5 separate regions of the Homo sapiens genome follow, and all the other regions are reported to be linked to region 1. The links are microRNA targets in miRTarBase. Many come from high-throughput screens and were not tested one by one. Region 1 holds a microRNA gene; each other region holds the end of a gene's coding sequence.

Region 1 (5,103 bases):
CCCTATTCTGCTTAACCCTTTCACTCTCACCTCTTTAGTGTTTTCTTTAGAGCCAATCTTCTTAAAAATCTCAGCTAAGAAATCATTCACTTTGGCCTTTGATGATTTTTCATCCTGAAAAGTTGAAAGACATAGGAAGAATTGGTTAGACTTGAGTTATTAATTAGGAACTGATGGTTGGATATGAACAGAAAATATCTCAAAATCTGGGCCTTATTGGTATGTTCCTACAGATAACAGATGCACCGATGATGCAGGTCTTGCAGCAGAAGCACTAACATTCTGTGTTACTGAATGCCTCCAGTCTCAGATTTCCACCTCAACTTGATGGAGAAGGAACTGACATATTCTTTCCATGTTAAGCAGAACTAGCTATTTATCTGGTGACCAATGCCTTAGGCATCTTTCTTGGGGACCAAAAAACACATGGTTATACTTAGTTTAGATTTTAAAATTTCAAGGTGGAAATGGTTACTGCACCACAGCAGGAGACTGATTCAACCAGTCCATGAGCCTTCACCTTGGACCTTCGGAAAGCATATCCTGGTGACCTACACCTTAGATAAGATCACTTCCGGTGTAGCCTCATGTCCCTCAATCTTTCAAGTCAGGCCACTCACTATTCGAGATGCTCCCTTTTCTGTTTCCTTATCAGACTTGCTCCCAGTCTGGTCCATACTGTGCTTCATCATCCGGCAGAGATGGGCCTCCAGCTCAGACTCGTTTTTGTTGTCGATCATCGTTAGGTGGTCCAGGATCTGAGGGAGACACATGCATGACTGATAGCACTGCCATTTCCATGATTTTCTCTCAAGCTCCCTCAGAGACCAGTTGCGATTCTTACTCACCTTGGGCCCTTTTAATTTGCATAAGGTGTGTAGCAGGGTCTTTAGGGTCCTTATGGGAAATTCACTTTTGCATTGCTTCAGTTTCTCTTTGGGGAAGACCTTCATGAAAATGTGGATATCCAGAAGAATTCTGTCTAGGTTAATGCTATTGATGGTATCAGGCAACAGTCGAACCATTCTCCAGAGACACTATTGAAAAAAGAATAAAAGAGTTAGGAGTGACTGAAGAATGAGGATAATTTGTCACCATTCATCTTCCCTAAGCTTTGAGCTCACTTCTAAAAGATGGCCAGGGCTATAAATGTGGCACATCATATCTTTCAAGTTCAGCTGCTAAAACATGAAAATTTTTAATCACTTCTACCATGACACCAGCTGAAGTGTGTCCAGTCATTCATCTAATCATCCATCTCTACTCCTTCCCACTCCCCAGAGCTAGGGGCCATCATTTAACCTGGTAGAAATTCTCTCTTGGGTTTCCTTCGTTCCTGAGAGTAAAGTAGTTCATGTTGCTTAACCAAATCTAATGCAAGGGGACAAAATATCTGATACTAATTCAGTGTAATAACAGTATTACAATGTTATAAATATGTTCATTTGGTCTCTTTCACAAAAGAGACCAAATATCATAGGGCTGTAGATATCTTTTTCCCCAAAATAAATGAAATCTGTTTCAAACTTCTTTCCTTTTGATCCTCAGAGAATTAGTAAAATATTTACAAAATATTTCCTCCCTTTCACTGTTTGAGGCCACGAACTGTTTAGGCCTGAACTTAGAATATAAATTGTAGGAAGGGAAAAACTGAAGACCAATTCATATATATATATATATATATATATATATATATACACACACACACACACACACACACACACACACACACACACGTGTATTATATACATATATAACATATTAAGATATACATATATAATACATATATACATATATATAATACACATATATATAAAAAACCATATATATATTTTTTAAGAGATGGGGTCTCACTGTTGCCAAGGCTGGAGTGTAGTGGTATGATCAAGCTCACTTCTGGGTTCAAGTAATCTCCTCAACTCAGCCTCCTGAGTAGCTGCTACTATAGGTGCATGCCACTGCACCTGGCTAAATTTTTAAAAATTTATTAATATTTTTATTACGAAAAATATATTTTCAGGTGTGACTTGGTTGATTTGAGCCTATGTCTTTCTTAGCTCCAATTCCTCTTTCCCCATACTTTTAACAAAGTGATTGCATCTTTGAAAGAAAAGAGATCAAATCATTTCAACTTCACCTTCATAACAAGCTCTGAGAATTTGGGAGAACTGGCTGTTGCTAGCAGGCTGTCTTGGAGCAAAACAAGTAGGGCACTGGAAGAAAAACCCAACACAACAGCATTAAGTTTCAAACCTGCATTCCAATTAGAATCAGCAGTTGAAAGGGCAAGTGAGATTACTCTATTCATCTAATAAACTGAGAGGTCATGGATCAGGAATTGTCCTGGACTACCTGACATTCAGTTAAGAAAATAAACATTGTTTAAGCCTTTTAAGTCACCACTTGGTAAGTGTAAGGTTTGTGACTCTATTTTTCATTGTCATTGGTAGCTGAGAAAGAATAAAATGTACCTGAAATGTACAAGAAAAATGTAACTGACAAACTTTACAGTCCTATTATAGAAAATGCATGATATTGGCTGGCTAACTAAGTATTTACTAGTTTTAGCTATGGTCTCAGGCTAAAATACCTTTGGTCCATGATGAAGAAGAGTAATAAATCAACTTCCTAGGCACACTTAAAGTTTTAACTGATATAGTTATAACTGATGTAGCTATAACTTTAAGTGTGCCTAGGAAGTTGATTATGATTGTTAGGTTGCCTAGGAAGTTGACTTACGGACATTATGGTTTCTAAGTGTAAACAAAAGCGAGGATGCCCCAGGCTCTATTGGCTGAGAGTACAGATATACCTCAGGATGTTGGTCTGGTCTGACTTCTCCAGAACCTTCACCACCAAGAGGTTCACAGAGCGGATGACCTGTTGTCCTTCCTCAAGATCTTCAATCCGAGAATCCAGCATTAAGGTGATGAGGCCATGCATTAGGTCTTTTAGTACTCCAGTGGAGGCCTCCCGGGCAAGGCTCTCTATCTGAAACAGCTATCCAGACATACTTGTGTCAGGGAGGTGTAAAACTCAATATAGAGAGTAAAGAAATGTGGGTGGCATATTCTGATAAATATTCAATTATGTTGTATTTTTTTTTTGAGACGGAGTCTCCTCTGTCGCCCAGGCTGGAGTGCCAGTGGCGTGATCTTGGCTTACTGCAAGCTCTGCCTCCCCGGTTCATGCCATTCTCCTGCCTCAGTCTCCCGAGTAGCTGGGACTACAGGCACCCACCACCACGCTGGGCTAATTTTTGTATTTTTTTTTTTTAGTAGAGATGGGGTTTCACCGTGTTAGCCAGGATGGTCTCGATCTCCTGACTTCGTGATCCACCTGCCTTGGCCTCCTGAAGTGCTGGGATTACAGGCGTGAGCCACCGCGCCCGGCTATGTTATATTTGTAAAAATTCAGAGTATTAAAGAAAAAACAAAATCACCACACTCCCCCAAGCCTCTAGTAATAGGCAAAATTAATCGGTGTGCTTCTAATTGTGAAATTTTTTGTTTTTTTTTTGAGACAGAGTCTTGCTCTGTTGCCCAGACTGGAGTGCAGTGGCACGATCTCGGCTCACTGAAAGCTCCGCCTCCTGGGTTCAAGCAATTCTCTGCCTCAGCCTCCCGAGTAGCTGGGATTACAGGCGCCCGCCACCAGGCCTGGCTAATTTTTTGTATTTTTAGTAGAGATGGGGTTTCACCATCTTGGCCAGGCTGATCTTGAACTCCTGACATTGTGATCCACCCGCCTTGGCCTCCCAACGTGCTGAGATTATAGGTGTGAGCCACTGTGCCTGGCCAAAGTATTTGTTTTTACATGTGAAATTATTTACTGTTATGCCAAATTTGTAATTTCTGGCTAGTTGGTGTCATTAAGTCCACCCTTTTAGCCCCAGTTTAAGAAAGAATATTGAAATCTGAGTGAGAATGTCTTTATTATCCTTATAATCTGCTCTACAGGTAAAACATTAACAAATTTTTTCCCTTTTATTTTTAGTTGACATGTAATAATTGTACAAATTTATGGAATACAGAGTGGTATTTCAACACATGTATACAATGTATACTGATCAAACCAGGCTAATTAGCATTTTTAATAGAACCATACTTATCTGTGGAAAGGCAGCTATGGCCTACCATGCCTGATGAAGAAACTGGCCGGAAGAAGCTAGGTAGTCTGTAAGCATGTTACTTTATATCCTAACAGTAAGGTGGGATGGAGTGTAGCCAAACATCCAATGGAAGCCATCAGTAGCTTGCTATATACAATGCATGTAAAATTCTACCAAGTGACACAGGACTCACTGCAACATCTGCATGGACTCTGGCTTTTGAACCTCTGTAGGCTGAGAGATTGATGGGAAGCTGAAATTCTGCAGAGGTGCCCTTACCGAAATCATGTTGCCAATGATACAGCTATACAACTTGATGATCTCGTCCTTCTCCAATTTCTCATCTGCCATGTGTGTGTTGTAGATGAGTCTTAGCTGCATAAAAGTGGCTATCAGAAACTGATCAATATGGCCGGACATGGCTTCAGCTTTGTCTTCCTGTCTCAGGACCTCATCGATCTGATAACAAAAATTTCAAGATATATTTTCCAAGCTTCATACTTCTAAAATAGCGGAAGACACTATATGAAACTTCTCCATAAGAATATTTATTAGCAAAGTACTTCTAAAGTCTTACCTTAAAAAAAAGCCCATTTACTTATTTATTTTATTCATTTATTATTTTGAGAGAGAATTTTGCTTTCACCCAGGCTGGTGTGCAGTGGCACGATCTTGGCTCACTGCAACCTCCACCTTCCGGTTTCAAGTGATTCTCCTGCCTCAGCCTCCTAAGTAGCTAGGATTACAGGCGCCTGCCACCACGCCAATTTTTGTATTTTAAGTAGAGACGGGGTTTCACCATGTTGGCCAGGCTGGTCTCGAACTCTTGACCTCGTGATCCACCCACCTTGGCTTCCCAAAGTGCTGGGATTACAGGCGTGAGCCACCGCACCTGGCCCCATTTAAATATAAATAACTAGTCCTTAGGGATTCAGTCATTCGGCAAATATTTACTGAGCAAGATACTAGATACATTAGTCACAGGTTCGATT
Region 2 (5,088 bases), not on the chromosome of region 1:
AAGGCCATTCTGGAGCAGATCAGTGCCCACGGCCAGAAGCACCGTGCGGTCCCTGCCCCGAGCCCCGGCCCGACCCACAACAGCCCCGAGCTAGGCCGTCCACCGGCTGCTGGCGTCCTGGCCCCAGATATGTCCGACAAGGACAAGTGTTCAGCCATCTTCCGCTCGGACAGCTTGGGGACCCAGGGCCGGCTGAGCCGCACGCTGCCAGCCAGCGCGGAGGAGCGCGATCGGCTGCTGCGCCGCATGGAGAGCATGCGCAAGGAGAAGCGCGTGTACAGCCGCTTCGAGGTCTTCTGCAAGAAAGAGGAGGCCAGCAGCCCTGGGGCAGGGGAAGGCCCCGCGGAGGAGGGCACCAGGGACAGCAAGGTGGGCAAGTTCGTGCCCAAGATCCTGGGCACGTTCAAAAGCAAGAAGTGAGTCTTCTGGCCTGGCAACCCAGGCCAGGGTGCCCGCATCGCTGCCCCGGTCATCCAGAAGCCCCGCGGAACAGAGAGCCCTGCTCATCTGCTTGAGCAGCGGCTGTCAGGCCACGGCCGCTTGGGGCTTGGCTGAGTGCGCCAGACCTCGGCTCCACTGGAGGCTCACCTGGCAGCTGCCGTCTCTGCCCCCTGGCCTCCCCAACGCTGGGGCTGCACCCCTCGCCACCAGTGCCTTTCTCCCCTCAGCACCTTCATCTCTGCACCGTCAGCCTTGCGTGGCGCAGCGTCTGGCTCCGCCATCTCTTTGTGCCTCAGTCCCCCCCGCCCCCTTTATTTTTTTGAGACCTAGGGCTGGAGTGCAGTTGAGCGGTCTGGGCTCACTGCAACCTCTGCCTCCCGGGTTCCAGCGATTCTCCTGCCTCAGCCTCCTGAGTAGCTGGGATTACAGATGTATGCTACCACGCCCAGGTAGTTTTTGTATTTTTAGTAGAGACAGGGTTTCACTATGTTGGCCAGGCTGGTCTCCAACTCCTGGCCTCAAATGATCAGCCCGCTTCAGCCTCCCAAAGTGGGGGGATTACAGGCGTGAGCCTTGCACCCCGCTAAGTCCCCTATCCTCTTGCAAGGGTCTCGCCTCTGTGCCTCAATTCCTCATTCTCTGGGCCCTTCTCCTCCTCAGGGCCTCCTGTTCTCAGGGCCTCCCCCCTCCCCGCTCCCTCCCTCTCTCAAGGTCTCCTCCTTCCCTCCCCCCCCCCCCCCCCCGTCTCCCCCCTCCCCCGCCTGGGCTTCACTTCCTTTCCTACTTGGATTCTCCTGCTCGCTGCCTCCCAGCATCTTTTTTGGAGGCCCGTCTCTTGCTGTGGGGAAGACTGGGCTGGCTGCGGGCAGTTTGCAAGGGGTGGGTGGGGCAGGGGGGGGGGAGCTGGACCAGAAGATGCCCCTTGGAGTGGCAAGGAAGCTGGACAGGGCAGGCCTCTGGGGACGGGACACAGGGAAGCCCGAAGGGGCGCCTTGGCCAGGTCTGCCATCTCCTCCAGCGAGGCTCTGGCCAGCACTGGGTGAGAGTGGGGAGGGGGCATTGGCCTTTGCAGCACAGTAAAACATGGTCCAGACAACCTGTGGCCCCGGCCTCATGAGCACCCCCTGCACAGGCCCGGCCCAAGCCAGGCGCTAGAAGGGCTGGTTGTGGAGTGCTTATCCTTGACAGGTATGGGGCCAGGTGAGGGCAGGGGACAAGGTGCAGCTGAGGCCGAGCCCAACTAGGTCCTGGGCACCCCTGCAGGTGGGAGTGGTCCTTGTCCTCCTGGTATCCAGCAGACACCCCCCTCTCCCCACCAGCCCCATTCTCAGGTCCTTTCCTCTTTGTCACCAACACCAAGAATCTGTCCAGGGTTCTTGGCTTATCTTTTATCTCTTTTCACTCCTAGAGAGGAATTGCAATTGACTCAGAATGACACATTTTGGCACCACGTGTGTAGAAAGCCCCCACTGTTAGATGATAGCCTCGTGAAATTCATGTTTCTGTATTCTCCTATTTCTTTTCAAAAACTAATTTTTTTTTTAGTGTAATAAATCCTAAGAGGGAACTGATTTAAGAAACAAGGCCGCCAAACAAAGGCAGCAGTTCCGACTCCAGCAGCTGGGAAAGGAAGGAAAGTGACCCCACTTTCACTCCTGCACAGCCCACTGGTTACCAAAACCACCGTGCAAGTCGGGATGACAGCAGGGACTTCTGGCCAGGTGGGAAAGGTGCCTGGAAGCGGGATGCGCCTGTGCGTCTCTTGGCCATGATGTTCTTGTGGGCATGTTATTCTTGGTGCTGCCTGGGGTGTTGCTGAGCGGACAGGCTCTCCAGCTGGAGTCCATGGAGAGGCCAGAGGCTGGCGGCCCTGCCTGGGCCTTCGGAGCCTCCTGCCTGCACCCTCCACCTCTTCTAAACCATGATGTGGCACATTTTGGTGTTAATAAAACACAACACACAAAGTATTCTAGCATGTTCCCCAGTGTGTATAATCGCCCAGTTACATCCTGCAGCCTTTAACCACGTGGCCTCCCAGATTTCCCCTGTGGACCCACCACCCACCCCTGTGGGGGGCACTAAAGACCCCCCAGCTCCACTTCCAAGGCCCACCTTGGCCTCCCCAACTTCACGCTGCTCTCCTGTCCCTGTCCCCGATGCCCCCTGTGCAGGCACACTCCTGGGTGCCCACCTGCGATTCCCCACTCAGCAGCCCCACCACACACTGCCCAGCCTGAGGCCAAGCCTCCAACCCTGCAGCCCCGTGGCCTCTCTGCAGCTTCCTCTCCCACAGCCTCTCTGTCCTGCTTGTTCAGCACCCTGGGCCTGCGCCTTGGGCTTTTGAAGCTCAACAAGCACCTCCCTCGGCAGCCCCCTCAGGAAACAGCCCCTGGGCTGGGTCTCTGACTGGCTCACCGCTTCCTCGGGCCCTCCCGATCCCTCCTCCGCCTCCTCCAACCTTCTCCCAAACCCAGCCTCCCTTTCTGAGTCTCTTGCAGGTGCCTGGTCCAGCACCAGGGCAGCGCCAGCTCTCACCTTCTGCTCAGCTCCCCCACCCACATCTTGTCCTTCCCCGCCCTCCCCCATGGTGGCAATGGCTTCCACAACCCAGCAGCGCCCCTCTCCTGGCAGCCCAACACCGACCACAGCACAGGCCGCACCCTTCAAACTGTGAGCTCCTCCGGCCTATGAGCTTCCCAGACTGTGAGCCTGGCAGCCCAACTCCGCCACCGACAGCACAGGCCGCGCCCTTTAGACTGTGAGCTCCTCCAGCCTGTGAGCTTTCCAGCTGCCTCCTTGTGTTCCAACCCCAACCCATGGGCAGGTGCAGCTGAGGACACCTGGCACCCTAGGACACAGGTCTGTGCCCACAGGGCCCCTTTGATCTTTGCAGCCCTGCACAGCCCTGGCCTGAACTCACACCAGGGACCTTGCCTGGGGGTGACAAGAGGAGGTAACCCTGACCTCGCGAGATGTCTGTCTCCCACCCTCACCTACGGAGACCTGAAGACAGATCAGGTGCAGTGGCCATACTAGGGGGCGCAGGCTGCAGTCCCTGACAGCAGGGGGAGGGGTGTCCCCCTTCTCTCTCCCCTTCTCTCCTCTGGCTCAGAGTCACAAACATGGCCAGGGGGTGACCCTACATCCCTACCCCACAGGACCACCCTGGGGGGCAGCCTGGACCCTGAAGCCACAGCAGGTAAGGAAATGATGGACAAAGAACAAGAAGCTGCCCCAGGCAAACCTGGAGGGAAAAGCCCAGTGCTGGATGTGCAGTGGGCAGGGCCTCTAGGGGGCGGCACTGGGCTCTGGGGTGGAGGTTTCAGGACGGGGGTGGGGTGGGGTCCTCAGAGGAGTGGAGGCTTCAGGAAAGGGGCCGGGGCCCCCAGCTAGTGGATGCTGTGACCTCAGAGGGGAGGGGAGGAACGATGGCTGCTTAGGTTGGGGGCAGACATGACTTTATTGGAGGAAGTCAGTGGGGCGGGGGCAGGGCCCTCATCTGCTCCCCCGAGGAGACCCGGGCAAGCTCCCTGGAACTTCAACGGGCCAGGCAAAGCAGGGAGGGCTAAGGGGTGCAGGAGACTGGAGAGGGGTCTGGGGAAGGGGCTGGGGCAGGAACAGAGGGCCAGGTGAAGGGAGTAGGGCGGCTCACACATGGTGCCCCTCCAGCAGGGGCAGGTGGCCCAGTGCCGAGTGGCAGACAGTCCCGTAGGCTTGGGAGTAGCCTCCAAGCAAAGCCCTGGCACCCCCCTGGGCACCCTGCAAGGCAGAGGTGCTGAACATCCTCCGGCCGGGCCGGGCCTCCGGAGGAAGCCGGGGAGGGACCTGTGTACAGTTGAGGGTCACATAAAGGGGCCATCAGAGGGGGTGCAGTGGAGGGGAGGCCTTGAGGTCCTCGAGAGATTTGAACTGGACATTGGAGGGGCAATGGGAAGCATGGGGAAGGGAGGGAAAAGCAGGGGGGAAGGGGAAAGGGGAAAGGAGGATGAGGGGACGGGGGCAGACTGGGCCGGGCTTACCTGTTGTACGCTGGCCACCCTCACCCCACCGCCCCGGTTCCAGTCACCCCGGATCAGGGCCTGGTTGGCCACCTGAGCCGCAGCCTGGGAGGTCAGGGAGGGCGCAGCTCCCCTCCCGCTTGGCTTCACCTGGGAAGGGCCATGTCACAGGGTCACTGAAAGGTGCAGAGGAGGGGTCCCTCCTGTGCCCGCCCCACCATGACTTACCAGCGAGAGTGTCAAGGGGGGCGCTTCCTTCGCCCCAGGGGGCCTTTCCCCATTCCCTAGGAGAGCAGTTTGGAGCAGGGGAGCGGAGTTCTGCCTGGGAACGTTCTTGGCTGCACGGGGGGACTCTGTGGGGTCAGTGGGTCAACCCCGGGGTCAGTGGGTCAACCCCAGGGTCAGGAACCGAATGCTGCGCATAGTTGGCAGCACAGGCAGAAGGGGCCCGGGCCGTGCTCCGCGTGGGCGGCCAGCAAAGATCACACACCGTGCTCGGCAGGGTCATGGCCTGGGCTGCTCTGGGGCCTGGGTCTGGGACCCTGCACAGGTGTCCTAGAAGGCAGCTGAGGGTCGGCTCTGGGTTTGTGCAGGTGTGCCTGGCTTGGGGAGACACCCTCCGGGCCCTTCTCTCTCGAGGTGCCGCTGC
Region 3 (5,103 bases), not on the chromosome of region 1:
TGTTTCAACCTCCCAAATTGTTGAGACAGGCGTGAGCCACTGCACTGGGCCAAATACAGATCCTTTGGCAGGTTTTATTAACAGATTTCATGGAGGTCTAGAAAAAAGCTTAACATGGCCGGGTGTGGTGGTGCATGCCTGTAATCCCAGCACTTTGGGAGGCTGAGGCAGGCGGATCACTAGAGATCAGGAGTTCAAGACTAGCCTGGCCAACATGGTGAAACCCCATCTCTACTAAATATATAAAAATTAGCCGGGTGTGGTGGCGGACGCCTGTAATCCCATCCACTCAGGAAGCTGAGGAAGGATAATCGCTTGAACCCGGGAGGCGGAGGTTGCAGTGAGCCGGGATTGTGCCACTGCCCTCCAGCCTGGGTGACAGAGCAAGACTTCGTCTCAAAAAAAAAAAAAAAAAAAAAAAAAAAGCCCAACAGACTAAAGAGCTTCCCAATTAGTTCCTCAAACTGATACTCATCCTTCCATCCTGAGGGGCGACCCCATAGTTTACAGCCCTTACACAGTGTTCAAAGCTGCGTGGTTTACGTCATTTTCCTATAGGTACTTTGTTTCTCCTGGAAATCTGTGGGCAACAGAGATGTGATGCATACCTTCCCAGATCTCCTCTCTTCAAGAGGTTTAATGTGTGTCCTCGTGTGCACACAAGGAAGGATGGACTGGAGACATTTGTCCTCCCCTACTTTTTTCTTGAGCCCTGGGGGCCCTGTGCCTAGTTCTGTCCCAGCCTGCCTCAGGGCTCAGCTATTTTAAGTTTTCAGGGTAATATGAGCCTTTCCTTCCCTTACTACTTCATTCCCTTCACCCCACCCCCACCCCCACCCCCCGCTTCAATCCAAACTCATCCTAGAGTAGAATAATAATTTTACGCCTAAAACCCAAAAGACTCACAGACAAGGAGAGAAATGAAGAAGCTGAGTAGATTATAGATCAGGGCAGCTGGGGTGAGCAGTCGTGGAAATCAAGAGGATGAAGAGGTAACTTACGTTCGGGATTCCCTAAGTCAGTCCACAGGCTGTAGAGGGAGCTGGGAGCCTCGAGGCCTTGATGGTGGTGCTGGGGAAAAACTGGTCCTCTTCCTTGGGGGCTAAGCCCCCCCAGTACCCCCTGTGTTCACACCAGCTACCCAGTCGCTATTTGTAGACCTCCTAGCCTCCTGCCTTGGTGTCAGGGCTGAAATGACAGGGCTGGAGGAAAGTGGACAGCTGAGAAACACAGCTGACACAGAGAAATTGGACACTGAGAGGTCTGGGGCAGGGCCGGACCCTAACTCCTCCCAACCCCCTAGAGCTGCTGTTCCTTGATTCTTCATCTAAGGCGAACAGGTGAATAATGGCTGAATTCAGGAAGGGACAGTTTCTGTTCATGCTCATTTAACATTTAAGGGGAGTTTATTTTTATTTTTCATTTATTTTTTGAGACAGGGTAAAAAAAGACTAATTTGAACTCATAGAGCTCTCCTATCAGCCATACTAGATGGCTTTTTTTTTTTTTTTTTTGAGACAGAGTCTTGCTCTTGTTGCCCAGGCTGGAGTGCAATGAAGCGATCCGGGCTCACTGCAACCTCCCAGGTTCAAGCGATTCTCCTGCCTCAGCCTCCTAAGTAGCTGGGATTACAGGCGCCCACCACCACGCCAAGGTAATTTTTGTATTTTTAGTACAGATGGGGTTTCACCATGTTGGCCAGGCTGGTCTCGAACCCCTGACCTCAGGTGATCCGCCTGCCTTGGCCTCCCAAAGTGCTAGGATTACAGGTGTGAGCCACCGTGCATGGCTAGATTGCTTTTTATCTGTAGGTGGTTGGAGGAGTACTTTGCTATCCTGTAAGAAAGTGAAGAATATGTAGTATTGCTTCATTCCCTCCAGCAGCTCCCAGAGACATCTCCCCACCCTCCTTCTTGTAAAATTTTGTCCTCAGACTGAAGGGAATTACCAGGGCTATTAAAAAGGGCCAGTTAACACTGGACAGAAGCATATAGCTGCCACATAAGGAATTTTTTAAATCATTTCTAAGTAATGTCCCCTTCCTCATGAGAACTGCAAACTCTTAAAGGTAGGATGGCCAACCCTCACACTTCCTAAACCCTTTTGATTCCCTGATTCCATCTCCCACCTTTGATGCCTCAGTATATAACTGATGGATCAAAGAGACAGATGCCATTCTCATCTCACAGGGGTGCACCCTTCTACTCTTTGGGCTGTGACATGGATGAAAGAGGAGATACTCCCATCTCAGGGGAGAGCAATTTAGAGGTGGCAATGCAGTGCTGCTCTATTCCTTGTATCTGTAAGAAATAAAGGACTGTGTTGGAGACTGGGTCAGGCAAGCTCCTGTAGGATCGTCGTTAGGGATACAGCTACTTGGACCCAAGAGATTTCCAGGGCAACGTGCTTTGTCATTCTCACCCACTACTTTTTTCTATTTAAGGGGGGAGTTTGAAAAGGGGGTGCAGGATGGTTCTGACTCTGCAGGTTCTTTAATGGCCCTGCTCTGACAGGCTGCAGAACAACAGGGCTTGCTTTGAGATGCTCTAAAGGAAAAGCTCCATCTTGCAGGCAAGATGACTTCTGCTCTTCGTCTTTTTTCAGCCACATAGGACAGGGACTGCTGAGCATGTTTGGATAATACAGCATCTTGGCACTGCGAGTTCAGTTGCTGTAGCTTTCATTGTAATAAAAATCTGCTTCTGTCCCTGACAGGTAAAACCCAATCCTCCAGCTTTAGGATTAAAGAAAGGCAGCCAGGCACGGTGGCTCACGCCTGTAATCACAGCACTTTGGAAGGCCGAGGCGGGTGGATCACAAGGTCAGGAGTTCGAGACCAGCCTGGCCAACATGGTGAAACCCCATGTCAACTAAAAATACAAAAATTAGCTGGGCACGATGGGGCACAGCTACTCAGGAGGCTGAGGCAGGAGAACTGCTTGAACTCGGGAGGTGGAGGTTGCAGTGAGCCGAGATATCGCGCCACTGCACTCCAGCCTGGGCAACAGGGCGAGACTCCATCTCAAAAAAAAAAAAAAAAGAAAGGCCCAAGTTCTCCATCCCTAAAGGGTTTTCAGAAGACGAGCTGGGCTGGGAGTGGTGGCTCATGCCTGTAATCCCAGCACTTTAGGAGGCCAAGGCGGGAGATCACTTGAGCCCAGGAGTTCAAGACCAGCCTGGGCAACATGGTAAAACCCTGTCTCTGCCAAAAATAGCAAAAAAAAAAAAAAAAAAGATTAGCCAGGCATGCTAGATCGCGCCTGTAATCCCAGCTACTCGGGAGACTGAGGCACAAGAATCGCTTGAACACGGGAGGCGGCTGCAGTCAGCTGAGATCTGCCACTGCACTCCAGCCTGGGTGACAGAGCAAGACCCTATCTCAAAACTCAACTACAAGGGCCCTAAATGAGTACACAGTACCACAGAATTAATAGTCTGGAAGGAAACCTAGAGGTCACCTACTAAGTCCAAGTCTCTTATTTTACTGATCTGGACACAGATCCAGAGTTGAGAAGTGATATGCTCGATGAACCACAGTGGCAGAACCGGGAGAGCCCAAAGCCATGGTCCCATTAGAGATCTAGCCATCTATCAGAACCGTGTACAGGGAAGAGGATGAGACAGAGGGAATGGTGTTAAAATAGTGTGCGTATGCTAGAGAAAGCCATCCCAACCCACGACAAACACCTCCAACAGCTGTAGGGCTATACCTACCCAGGGCCTCCAACCCTTTACCCATACCAGGGCGGCAACAGAGAAACAGTGACTGATGTCCAGTGACAGATTTTTTTTTTTATATTTAAAAACAAAACCAACCTCCCCCCAAATAACCCCCAAACAAACAAAAAAACAGATTAAATAAAATTTACAGTGAATATACCCAGCAAACATCTGTATGTGCAATTAAATACTGTGTCTGTTACTGCGGCACGAACCTCAAACAAACAATATACAAGTGTTCTGGGGGGGCCAGGGGAATCCCAAGTTTTAACTCTGTGGGGTCTAGGAAGACAAGATGGGGAAGTGAGAGAATGGGGCAATCAATTTTGTTTATCTTAATTCTGTCCATATAAATATATTCATAAAGACCAAAAAAGGAAAGGAAGCTTGGGATGTTAAGGTAATAGGAGGACAGTGTGGGACTTTCCCAATTCTACCTGACCAAAAAATGAGAAATTAATTTTATGATAGGAGAAGAGATTTAAAAAAATGATAGAAGAGGATGGAAGCCAGGCACAGTGGCTCACGCCTGTAATCCCAGCACTCTGGAAGGCCAAGGCAGGTGGATCACCTGAGGTCAGGAGTTTGAGGCCAGCCTGGCCAACATGGTGAAACTCCGTCTCTACTAAAAATACAAAAATTAGCCGGGCATGGTGGCGCGTGTCTGTAGTGCCAGCTACTTGGGAGGCTGAGGCAGGAGAATCACCTGAACCCAGGAGCTGGAGGTTGCAGTTAGCCAAGATCGTGCTACTGCACTCCAGCTGGGGTGACAAGAGCGAAACTCCGTCTCAAAAAAAAAAAAAAAAAAAAAAAGAAGAGGATGGGAAGAAGAGTGATGCAAGGGGGGTCAACCAGGGAAAAAGAGAGGACCCATGGCAGGGGAGCAAGAAGGAGTCCAATGCCAGTGTAGGTATCTGTGTTTCCATCTTCATCACTGTCTTAGGTTCCAGTTTAACATCAGTTTCCTTACTTCCTGCCTCTGTCCATGGTCTGTCAGGATCCTTCAACCCCCTCCACCCTGCCCTTGCTCCTTCTGTGACAGTCCCTTTCCCCTCCTCCATTTATTGGGAGCTGGCTCGCTCCAGGATCCTCAGGTCATAGTTCTTTTTGGCCATTCGAAGTTTGAAGCGACTCACGGAGTTGTTGAGACGAAGGGAGGCATTTTGGGCAGCCAGGGGGCTGGGGAACACAGCCACAATGGTGTACAAGGCAGCGAGGTCCGAGTGGCGGCCATTCTCAGCAGTCCCACTGTTGTCCCCCCCACCCCCTCCAGGCAGCCCCTGAGCATCCTTGAGCCACTGGATCTTGGCGCCAGACATGGCGAGCTGCGTGAAGAGTTTGTCCGCCTCAGTACGGGTGATGCCCTCAGGGAGATCTGTCACC
Region 4 (5,099 bases), not on the chromosome of region 1:
AAAAGACAAGGACAAGAGAGCACGGTCTTGGGCATGGTATGAGCTTGCTGCCCCCTGCTTTGTCCTTGAGTTGCTTGGTTTTGGGAAGTGACTTCAGCCTCTGGCTGTCACACTTAGGGTTTCACTCTAGGGCAGTGGCCAGGGCTTACTAACCAGAGAGGTGGAGGCAGCCAGCAGAGGCACCTGGGCTCCCTACAGCACTCTCCTTTGTTTCCTCTTAGATGTGAATGAGTGTGATGACTTGAACGGGCCTGCTGTGCTCTGTGTCCATGGTTACTGCGAGAACACAGAGGGCTCCTACCGCTGCCACTGCTCCCCGGGATATGTGGCTGAGGCAGGGCCCCCCCACTGCACTGCCAAGGAGTAGCAGTCAGGGGTCAGTGTGGCAACTACCTGGAAATGGCCTCCAGTCACAGGCAGGGGCCTTGAGGATGATTTCCTAGCTGGGAAGACACCGTGACATCAGGCCAGAGGTTTCCAATCAGCCTTGCCTGCTTTCATCTCTCCCAGCTTAGCCTCTGGCTGTAAGCTTCGGTCATTGCCTCCATGCCCTTGCTTGGCTCAAGCACCACCAATCGCTTTAATGCTTCAGCCACCGCATGAGGCCCTGTCCACCACCTTTCCTGGCCTTGCTATGGGATGCTTACCAAAGGATGGCCCTCATCCACCCTCCCAAGCTGTGCGAGCATGCAAGGCCCCATGGCCTCACACTGCAGACACCCCTTTCCAGCCACAATCCACCATCATCCTGACGATCCCACAACTGGGACAGAGGCTACATCTGCCCTAGGGAGGTCCTTCAGAATCTGTGGAGCAAGAAAGGATTTGGGGAAGCTTGGGGACTGACTCCAGAGCCCCCTCCTAAGAACCATCACCACCACTCAGCCAATCTGTTCTGGGCCCTGATTTTGCCACACCTCCATCCTGTAGCCCATTCTCTGACCCCAAGGAGTGGCAGAAGATCCCTTCACTCAGAGAAGCAAGGCTGATATTAGCTTGTTGAATGTAAGAGACACAAATGAAGAAGAACAAAGAGCCTGAGAAAGCAGCAAGAGGACATGATGAAAAATACGTGGAGTTGATGAGAAAGGGGAGCCAAGGCTTTATACGTCTAAAGAAAATATTCAGTAGCTGAATCCGCCCAGTGATAGCCTGTGGGCACCAGCAGCAAGGGCTGCCATGGGATACAGCACCCATCTACAAAGACCTCTATTACATAAACACTGCTTCTTACAGGAAACAAACCTCTTCTGGGATCTCCTTTTGTGAAAACCAGTTTGATGTGCTAAAAGTAAAAAGTCTATTTTCCAGTGTGGTCTTGTTCAGAAGCAGCCAGATTTCCAATGTTGTTTTTCCCCTCCACTCAGAAACCCCTGCCCTTTCCCTTCAGAAAACGATGGCAGGCATTCCTCTGAGTTTACAAGCAGAGACTCACTCCAACCCAAACTAGCTGGGAGTTCAGAACCATGGTGGAATAAAGAAATGTGCATCTGGTCTCTTCTGTTGTTTTTATTTCATATCAGATTAAATTTCTTTACCATGTTGGCTAAGTCTAAATATTAGAGATGAGGCTGTGCCTACTCCCTGGCCAGCTCTGCTGATAGCCTATGATGGGTTCCAATGGGAAATGACTCTTTACTATTAAAAGACAAGGAAAGCTCTGACTTCGTACTTCTCTGATGAATGGCAATGTAAATGAACAAGGCTCCATGTGACTGGAGCATGGAAGTGAATGCTACTTTCTTAATTTAATCTGCCCTGTCCTACCTGCTCCTCTGATTGTTAGCCATCACATAACTTATTGAATGCTTGCCATGTGCCAGGCACTGTGCTGAGTGCCATACATACATTTCATTTAATTATCCAATAATCCTACTTACTATTGTTTATTCTCAATTTACAGGTGAGGAAACTGAGACATAGAAAGCTTAAATAATTTGCTCTAGGTCCCTATACTAATTGAGATGTTTTCAGCAGACAAAAATAAGTCACTCTTACGCATGTAAAAATATTCTTTCACTCATAATAAAAGAAATGCAACTTAAAACCATACTGAGATCCTTTTTAAAACTGTCAGATTGGCAAAGATCAAAAAGCTTGTTAAGACTCCTAGCTGGCAAGCATGTGGGAAATAGGTACTCTCATAACAGCTGACAGAAGTACATATTGAAGAGGACAATATGGCAATGTCCTTCAAAATTATAAAAGCACTAACTCTTTGATCCAGTAGTTTCCACTTCTAGGAACTTAACCTTCAGATATATTTTCACCAGATATAAAATGACATACGTAAGAAGTTATTACTGCATCATTTGTAATAGCTAAAGATTAGAAACAATTAATTGCTATGGAACCCTTAAAAAAGGTGGCTCTAAATTCCTTAAGAAAGATATCCAAAACAAATTAAGGGGAAAAGGGAGGGTTGCATAACAGCATGTAACATAACACTATTTGTCTAAAGAATGGGGAAAGAGAAGCGGTTGTCTGTTCACCTCATCCTTGCCACTCCGCCTTATACCTCACCATCGGAGAACTTACCATCCCCCAAATATATCCTGCTGGCACTACACCTTCGTAACTGCTGTTCCCACTGCCCCCACAACACTCCAATCTCCACCTTCCTGCCAACCTTGAGATATTGTATGCATATATACATATTTCCTTTGTTTAAAATACAAATAGCATACTATGCATGCTGTTCTGCACTTTGCTTTTTTTTTATACTTGCAATTAGAGCTGCCTCATTTCATTTTACAGCTGTATACTATTCCATTGAATGGATAAACCATAATTTATTTAATCAGTCCCTCACTGACAGACGTTTCCATTGTTTCCTGTCTTTTGCTATAAATAATGCTGTAATGAATATTCTTGTGCATATTTCACATTAATTTATGGGATTACATCTGCAGGATAAATTCTTAGAACCAATGGTGGTTTGTGGGGAGGGTGACAGGGTGGATAGGTACAGGATTGGGAGACTTTTCACTGTATCTCCTTTTGTATTTTTTTGAATTTTGTACCATATGTATCACCTATTCAAAAAAAATAAAATATTTTTAAATACAGTTGCTGGCCAAAGATTGCTTAAATGCTCCTTCTCTTTATATATTTATCTGACTATAATTTACAACTAAAGCCAGGTGCTAATTATGTCAAAATTCCTTAATGCAAATTTGTCAGGCAGCCCTGTGGCATTTTTATGAAGAGTGGAAAATACGGATTTTAAAAGAACGATCATAAACATCAATGCTAGATAGGAAGAAAAATAGAAGAGATTCCTTCCTTTCAGACAAAACATGCAGTGAACAGTGTTAGGCCCTGCCCAAAGCCAGCTGCACAACATTAGCTTGGGTCCAGATTTCAAGGGAGAGCTGTACCACCACGATCAGTGCTGCCCACTTCCCTATACCAGGTTGATCCTGCCAAATGCCACCCCTGCACTCTAATGCTTTATAACAAACGACAAAACAACAGAGCTCGATTCTCAGAAGTTACAGAAAGAAGAGTCTCTTCCTGAACACCTACTTTAGTAGTCCTTCCTAATCTTTTACTTCTCAACTTCTTTCCTCCTATCCCTTGTAATCACTCAACATTCCCATACGAAGAAACTATGGGTGGGCCAGGCATGGTGGCTCGTGCCTGTAATACCGGCACTTTGGGAGGCTGAGGCAGGAGGATTGCTTGAGCCCAGGAGTTCGAGACTCCTGTGCAACATGGTGAAACCCCATCTCTACAAAAAATACAAAAAGTAGCTGGGCTTGGTGGTGTGCACCTGTAGTCCTAGCTACTTGCAGGGGCTGAGGTGGGAAGATTGTTTGAGCCTGGGAGGTAGAGGCTGCACCTCTGCACTCCAGCCTAGGAGACAGATTGAGACCCTGCCTCAAATAAAAAGAAAGAAACTAAGAGTGGATGGGACACATAATTTACATACCCTTGGTCACTCTCATCACATAACTCAAGTATGGTACCACAATAAGATCTGGGCATTGACCAAGAGACCTTCTCTTTGAAAAACAACATAAAGTCTCCACCAATGGAGACTTCCTGCTGCCACTTCTGGTTTCCCAATGAAGCTTTCTCAGTGTGAAGTAACATGATTTTCCCAAATCCGCCTTTTTTTTTTTTTTTTTTTTTTTTGAGACAGAGTCTCACTCTGCCACCCAGGCTGGAGTCCAGTGGTGCAATCTTGGCTCACTGCAATCTCCACCTCCTGGGTTCAAGTGATTCTCTTGCCTCAGTCTCCCGAGTAGCTGGGATTACAGGTGTCCACCACGCAGTTAATTTTTGTATTTTTAGTAGAGATGGGGTTTCACCATGTTGCCCAGGCTGGTCTCAAACTCCTGACCTCAGGTGATCTGCCTGCTTTGGCCTCCCAAAGTGCTGGGATCACAGGCGTGAGCCACCGTGCCCAGCCCCAAATCTGCCTTTTTCTAAACATAAAATTCCAATTCTCCCATTAACAGTAGATACTCACATATAAGCTGCATTCTAAGGGACTGTTTCTGTCTAGTGCACCACTGTAATTTGATTGATTTAGCAACAAAAGCTGTTCTGCTCGTGCTCAAGAGTTTTAAAACCACAAAATCAATAAATAACCCACAAAAATATTCTTAAAGAATATATTCTAATGTTTAAAATGTAGCAAAATCTTTTTAAGGAGGATGAAAGGACAGGTAGTCTGAACTGAAACCCTATCAGGCGCAGGTACTGGCGGCACTGTCTTGGTCATGTGTGCACACAGATGCTCCCATGGTATGCTGCTTTCTGCCTCCTTCCACCAGCTCTAAGAAATGTGCTCAGGTTTCTGAGTGTCCCCTTCTCTCCTCTAACCGCATGATAGGTTTGTTTTCTCTAAGTCCTAGGTTTTGCCATGTTGGAAATGTATCTAAGTTTCTGTCTCAGATATTTTCTAAACTCTATTTCCATTTTTTTAAATAGTAAATTCTTACTAAATGACCTTAATTCCAATCCAGTGCAGAAATGCAAGTCTTTACTGTAACAAACTTCTAGGCTCCCAAGCAAAAGATGGATTTAACCAGTAACTCTTCCAGAATCAACTTGGTTGTAGTTTCTCCAACATCAGTATTAATAAATCA
Region 5 (5,097 bases), not on the chromosome of region 1:
CTCTTTGTTTGAGTCTTGACTTGGTTCTTTGTTGAGGGCTTCTCATTTGACCTCAGTTGCTGGCTTATATGGACAGCAGCATGTATGTAGGAGATAGTTGAAGAGCTCTTGACTTGGATAAAACCACCCCATGTGGTCTAACCAATATAAAGCCTGCTACCAACCTCAAAACCTATTTCTTTGGAGTGGAGCAAAATGCCCCAATTTCCTGGTCCTACTGCTTTTCCAGGGGATAATTTATTATGTCATTCCAGGCAGGAGCTTCTACAGCTCTGATCACCACATTATTACTTTGGAGGTGATGTTCTTTGACTCCCCGACCTCCACAATGTACCATTAAGCCTCTTTCACTTACTTTTCCAGCTGAGAGCAGCAAATGTGTCTGCCGAGAAGCATCGGAGTGCGAGGAAGAAGGGTTTAGCATTTGTGTGGAAGTGAACGGCAAGGAGCAGACGATGTCTGAGTGTGAGGCGGGCGCTCTGAGATGCAGAGGGCAGAGCATCTCTGTCACCAGCATAAGGCCTTGTGCTGCGGAAACCCAGTAGGCTCCTGGAGGCCCTGGTCAGCTTGCTTGGAATCCAGCAGGCAGCTGGGGCTGAGTGAAAACATCTGCACAACTGGGCACTGGACAGCTTTTCCTTCTTCTCCAGTGTCTACCTTCCTCCTCAACTCCCAGCCATCTGTATAAACACAATCCTTTGTTCTCCCAAATCTGAATCGAATTACTCTTTTGCCTCCTTTTTAATGTCAGTAAGGATATGAGCCTTTGCACAGGCTGGCTGCGTGTTCTTGAAATAGGTGTTACCTTCTCTGGGCCTTGGTTTTTTAAAATCTGTAAAATTAGAGGATTGCACTAGAGAAACTTGAATGCTCCATTCAGGCCTATCATTTTATTAAGTATGATTGACACAGCCCATGGGCCAGAACACACTCTACAAAATGACTAGGATAACAGAAAGAACGTGATCTCCTGATTAGAGAGGGTGGTTTTCCTCAATGGAACCAAATATAAAGAGGACTTGAACAAAAATGACAGATACAAACTATTTCTATCCTGAGTAGTAATCTCACACTTCATCCTATAGAGTCAACCACCACAGATAGGAATTCCTTATTCTTTTTTTAATTTTTTTAAGACAGAGTCTCACTTTGTTGCCCAGGCTGGAGCGCAGTGGGGTGATCTCATCTCCCTGCAACCTCCGCCTCCTGGGTTCAAGCGATTCTTGTGCCTCAGCTTCCCAAGCAGCTGGGATTACAGGTGCCCGCCACCACGCCCAGCTAATTTTTGCATTTTTAGTAGAGATGGGGTTTCACCATGTTGGCCACGCTCGTCTCCAACTCCTGACCTCAGGTAATCCGCCTGCCTTGGCCTCCCAAAGTGCTGGGATTACAGACATGAACCACCACGCCTGGCTGGAATACTTACTCTTGTCGGGAGATTGAACCACTAAAATGTTAGAGCAGAATTCATTATGCTGTGGTCACAGGGGTGTCTTGTCTGAGAACAAATACAATTCAGTCTTCTCTTTGGGGTTTTAGTATGTGTCAAACATAGGACTGGAAGTTTGCCCCTGTTCTTTTTTCTTTTGAAAGAACATCAGTTCATGCCTGAGGCATGAGTGACTGTGCATTTGAGAATAGTTTTCCCTATTCTGTGGATACAGTCCCAGAGTTTTCAGGGAGTACACAGGTAGATTAGTTTGAAGCATTGACCTTTTATTTATTCCTTATTTCTCTTTCATCAAAACAAAACAGCAGCTGTGGGAGGAGAAATGAGAGGGCTTAAATGAAATTTAAAATAAGCTATATTATACAAATACTATCTCTGTATTGTTCTGACCCTGGTAAATATATTTCAAAACTTCAGATGACAAGGATTAGAACACTCATTAAAGATGCTATTCTTCAGAATTGTTTCATTTGTATGATGTTTCATTTTAGAGAAGATTTTCATGATGAATGGTTAATGTGTTCTTGCCTGAAGTTTTATGTCTGATCCAGATCTAGCTTTTTGTATCAAAGTGTGCCCTAAGGGAAGATGCAGATATAATATGTTGAAGTTACAAGGAGGCAGGTTTCAATTGGTTAAAAACAATGACATTCAGACATTGCAACTGCATTTGTTAGCGGTTATTACAGAGTTAATTTCTACCCTGGATGGGAGGACACATTTGAACATGCTAGGCCTGGATGCAGACCCTGAGACAAAAGGTTGAACAAGTAATTCATTTGGAAGGAAATACCTCAGTATCCTTCCAATAATTTCTCCTCTTAGCTTAAGCTAGTATGGAGTTAGATTCCTACCGCTTATGTATCACCATGCCCCCTTCCTAAATAATACAGAGGATATGGTCAGCATTATCACATATCATCAGAGATTGAGGTTTGAAAGAAAGGAAATGAGTAGATGTAACTAAGAGGTTTGAGAAAGGAATTTCAGCAGAGTTATTGAAGGAGAAGTCAAGGAGAGGAGAAGGAGAGGAGCAGTGAATGTTGTCGTGAAGAGGTGTTGTCTTGAAATACTGTATTTTTTTCCTCCTTTTCTTTTCTGAACATTCTTGTGCTGACCTTTCCTCTAGTCCAACAGAGGCATTCACAATTGCCTGTGGAGAATTAGGATTGTCGCAGCAGGTCAGCAAGGAGAAAGTCATTTTTAAGATTAAATTTTTAAAAATGTTTTGAAACTTCCAAAATAAGTTCTTGAACACCTATGGAGAGGCTTTGAGGAAAGTTAAGGGAATGATTTTATACCACAAAAATAAATGGAAAAAGAATAAAGACTGTGAGAATTCCATCTTCCTGCCCTTTCCTGTGCCTCAGATCAGGTGAGGGTCATCTGGGTTAGAAGGGGATAGAGCCTTGGAGGAGGCAGAGGGCAGAAAGCATTGCTGAGATTAGAGTCATTTGGCCCTCAGAAGGAACAGACAAAGAGAAGGAAATTGGCTGGTGCATTAATCATCACTAGCTTCAGGGAGCTATGTGGAGGCCAAGGCACATCCTACAGATCATCGCTTACCACTCATGAGGACGCTACAAGTTACCTGGGCAGAGAAGGTGCCTGAGAATATTTCCTAATCGTTTTGAGAAGTGCCTTCCTGTGACATCTTATGTATTTCCTAATTGATCAAAAGTAGTGCTGCTTCTCTAAGCCCTGAGATTTAATGAGCCCCATTCAAACTGTTATTAATGTAACCTTCTTTCCCAGTGCAGGATGACTTGTAATCACCTTGAAAGAGAAGGAGGGTTCTTCGTATTCAGGTAGGGTATGGTAGGGATGTGGAGTGCCAAGCAGGAAATCTGACAAGTGACCCCCGGAACTTTGGATTACCTAGCAACTAGCCAGGTAACTGGCTAATCTGATTGAGGGTTGCCCTCTTTGCTGGGCAGATCATGGCTAATCTCAGCTTCACATGAGTCTTGTGAACCATCTAGTTGTTTTGTAACTGCTAAGAGCTGCAAGTGCTGAGCAGCTGGTTTATACAGCATTCCCTGAAACAGCCTAGTATGTGTCCATTTATGTGCCCGGCTTATTATGTGTCCACTTATGTGTCCAATTAGTAATCACTTTTTCTTTCGGTCAAGGTATGTGTATTAATCAATATTTTTTGAACCCGTCCTGTCTCAGTCTGTTTTATGCTGTTATAACAGAATATCACCAACTGGGTAATTTATAATGAGCATAAATTTATTTGGCTGCTGGTTCTGAAGGCTGGGAAGTCCATGAGCATGGTGCTGGCATCTGGCAGGGCCTTCATGCTGCATCATCCTATGGCAAAACGTGGAAGGGCAAGAGAGAGCAAGAGGAAGCAGGGGCTGAACTCGTTTTTATAACAAAAGCACCCTCATGATAACTAACCCATTCCCGTTACAACAACACAATCCATTCATAGCAGCAGAGACCTCATGTCCTAATCACTTCTTATGAAGGCTTGCCTCCCAACACGTGCATTGGAGGTTAAGTTTCCAACACATGAACTTTGGGAAACACATGCAAACCACGGCACCATGGTTTATCATTATTCTGTATTTTCTTTATGTTCCTATTCACATTTCTTATACACACATACTCACCCACCACAGGCATTTGGATTATTTGGAGATAATACACACATACTCACACATAATACACACAAACTTACTCACTTATACACACATACTCACCCACCACAGGCATTTGGATTATTTTCACAGCATAATAGCTAGTGGAAGTGGTCATCATCATAAACTTGAAGAAAACTTAAGATATTGCATACTTTGGGCACAAGATGAAGTGGGTATTCAGGGGTATCCAATACTTCTCTTTCTCTTCTCTGAAGTAGAGCGGATAGACAAAGAAGAGAAGAGAAAAGAAAAGGGGAGGCAGGAGAGATAGAAAGAGAGAGATAAATTGGGCCATTCTTAGTATGGGATTGGCAGAACTGAGTAGCCATACCAGTCCACTGAGATTTTTCTTCCTTGATGGACTAGTTAAAGCGTACTCAATACTTGTGTTAGAAACAGAATGGCTTGTTTCTTTCTCAGAACACTAAGCCAGAAAAGCGACATCAGTAGGAGGCAATTTCCATTAATGTCTGAGAAAACAGGTTTATGCCTGCCTTTCAATTACCTTGGACTTTCAGGCCATTCACACATTTGTGGACGAGAAAGCTGATGCCATGATAGGAGCCCCTGCTGTGACAACCAAAGCACCTACAATTTGTCTTTTTATTTATTCCTGTCAGGCTGTGAAGGCAAAGCTCTAGATTTACATTCAAGATATCAATCACATAGAAAAATTTGCTTCCTCAGCCAGGGGTTAACAAGACCAGATGGAAAGACTGCCGTTGTTTGAAAGGGGTGGGCTGGAGGTGAGAAGGTGGGCAAGAGAAGAAAACATGAAAATGTTCTTTTCAATTCATAGGCTGAGGACAATTTCCTGTGAAAAGACAAACATAGGAACTGCTCTGTTATCACTGTTATTTCCATGCATCTCTATGAGAGGAGACTTGCACTGAATTCCAGGGAAGGGGACTTAGTTATACGGCAGATCAATGATGTCCAAGACAGAGAAACATTGACTGAAAAACGAAGCACATGCGATGTTGGCTTGAGGGTCTA

The links. Region 1 holds the annotated microRNA hsa-miR-5582-5p (UAGGCACACUUAAAGUUAUAGC, at 2,674-2,695, opposite strand). A microRNA usually pairs through its seed, bases 2 to 8, with sites in the 3' UTR of a target mRNA and lowers its output. Matches are read on the target gene's strand: a 7mer-m8 pairs with bases 2 to 8, a 7mer-A1 pairs with bases 2 to 7 and ends in A, and an 8mer does both.
Region 2: the mRNA of FAM83H is a reported target of hsa-miR-5582-5p. Seed matches in the 3' UTR shown: 7mer-m8 at 728-734 and 7mer-m8 at 1,060-1,066.
Region 3: miRTarBase lists R3HDM2 as a target of hsa-miR-5582-5p. Seed matches in the 3' UTR shown: 7mer-m8 at 4,232-4,238.
Region 4: the mRNA of LTBP2 is a reported target of hsa-miR-5582-5p. Seed matches in the 3' UTR shown: 8mer at 1,573-1,580.
Region 5: miRTarBase lists C7 as a target of hsa-miR-5582-5p. Seed matches in the 3' UTR shown: 7mer-m8 at 1,225-1,231 and 7mer-m8 at 2,811-2,817.

Annotation. Positions count from the first base shown.
Region 1 is chr11:46,750,498-46,755,600 of GRCh38, forward strand. MIR5582 (microRNA 5582) reads right to left here and starts at 2,695; the gene lies at 2,628-2,695. CKAP5 (cytoskeleton associated protein 5) reads right to left here. Exons shown (of 44, transcript NM_001008938.4): 36 at 4,391-4,570; 37 at 2,813-3,000; 38 at 2,138-2,213; 39 at 849-1,037; 40 at 621-758; 41 at 31-114.
Region 2 is chr8:143,721,253-143,726,340 of GRCh38, reverse strand. FAM83H (family with sequence similarity 83 member H) reads left to right here. Exons shown (of 5, transcript NM_198488.5): 5 at 1-2,408. The coding sequence ends at 420. It overlaps MAPK15 (mitogen-activated protein kinase 15), which reads right to left. Exons shown (of 14, transcript NM_139021.3): 11 at 4,930-5,088; 12 at 4,668-4,792; 13 at 4,461-4,589; 14 at 3,883-4,266. The coding sequence ends at 4,090. Among named protein-coding and RNA genes, the nearest start is that of MAPK15, 7.4 kb to the right of the region's middle. RefSeq lists an enhancer at 2,717-3,218.
Region 3 is chr12:57,249,992-57,255,094 of GRCh38, forward strand. R3HDM2 (R3H domain containing 2) reads right to left here. Exons shown (of 24, transcript NM_001394031.1): 24 at 3,773-5,103. The coding sequence ends at 4,782. STAC3 (SH3 and cysteine rich domain 3) reads right to left here and starts at 1,196. Exons shown (of 12, transcript NM_145064.3): 1 at 1,002-1,196.
Region 4 is chr14:74,496,152-74,501,250 of GRCh38, reverse strand. LTBP2 (latent transforming growth factor beta binding protein 2) reads left to right here. Exons shown (of 36, transcript NM_000428.3): 36 at 222-3,068. The coding sequence ends at 367. ISCA2 (iron-sulfur cluster assembly 2) reads right to left here. Exons shown (of 4, transcript NM_194279.4): 4 at 4,145-5,099. Among named protein-coding and RNA genes, the nearest start is that of ISCA2, 4.9 kb to the right of the region's middle. RefSeq lists a silencer at 171-465 and an enhancer at 152-1,147.
Region 5 is chr5:40,981,029-40,986,125 of GRCh38, forward strand. It overlaps C7 (complement C7), which reads left to right. Exons shown (of 18, transcript NM_000587.4): 18 at 364-3,615. The coding sequence ends at 545. Among named protein-coding and RNA genes, the nearest start is that of C7, 74 kb to the left of the region's middle.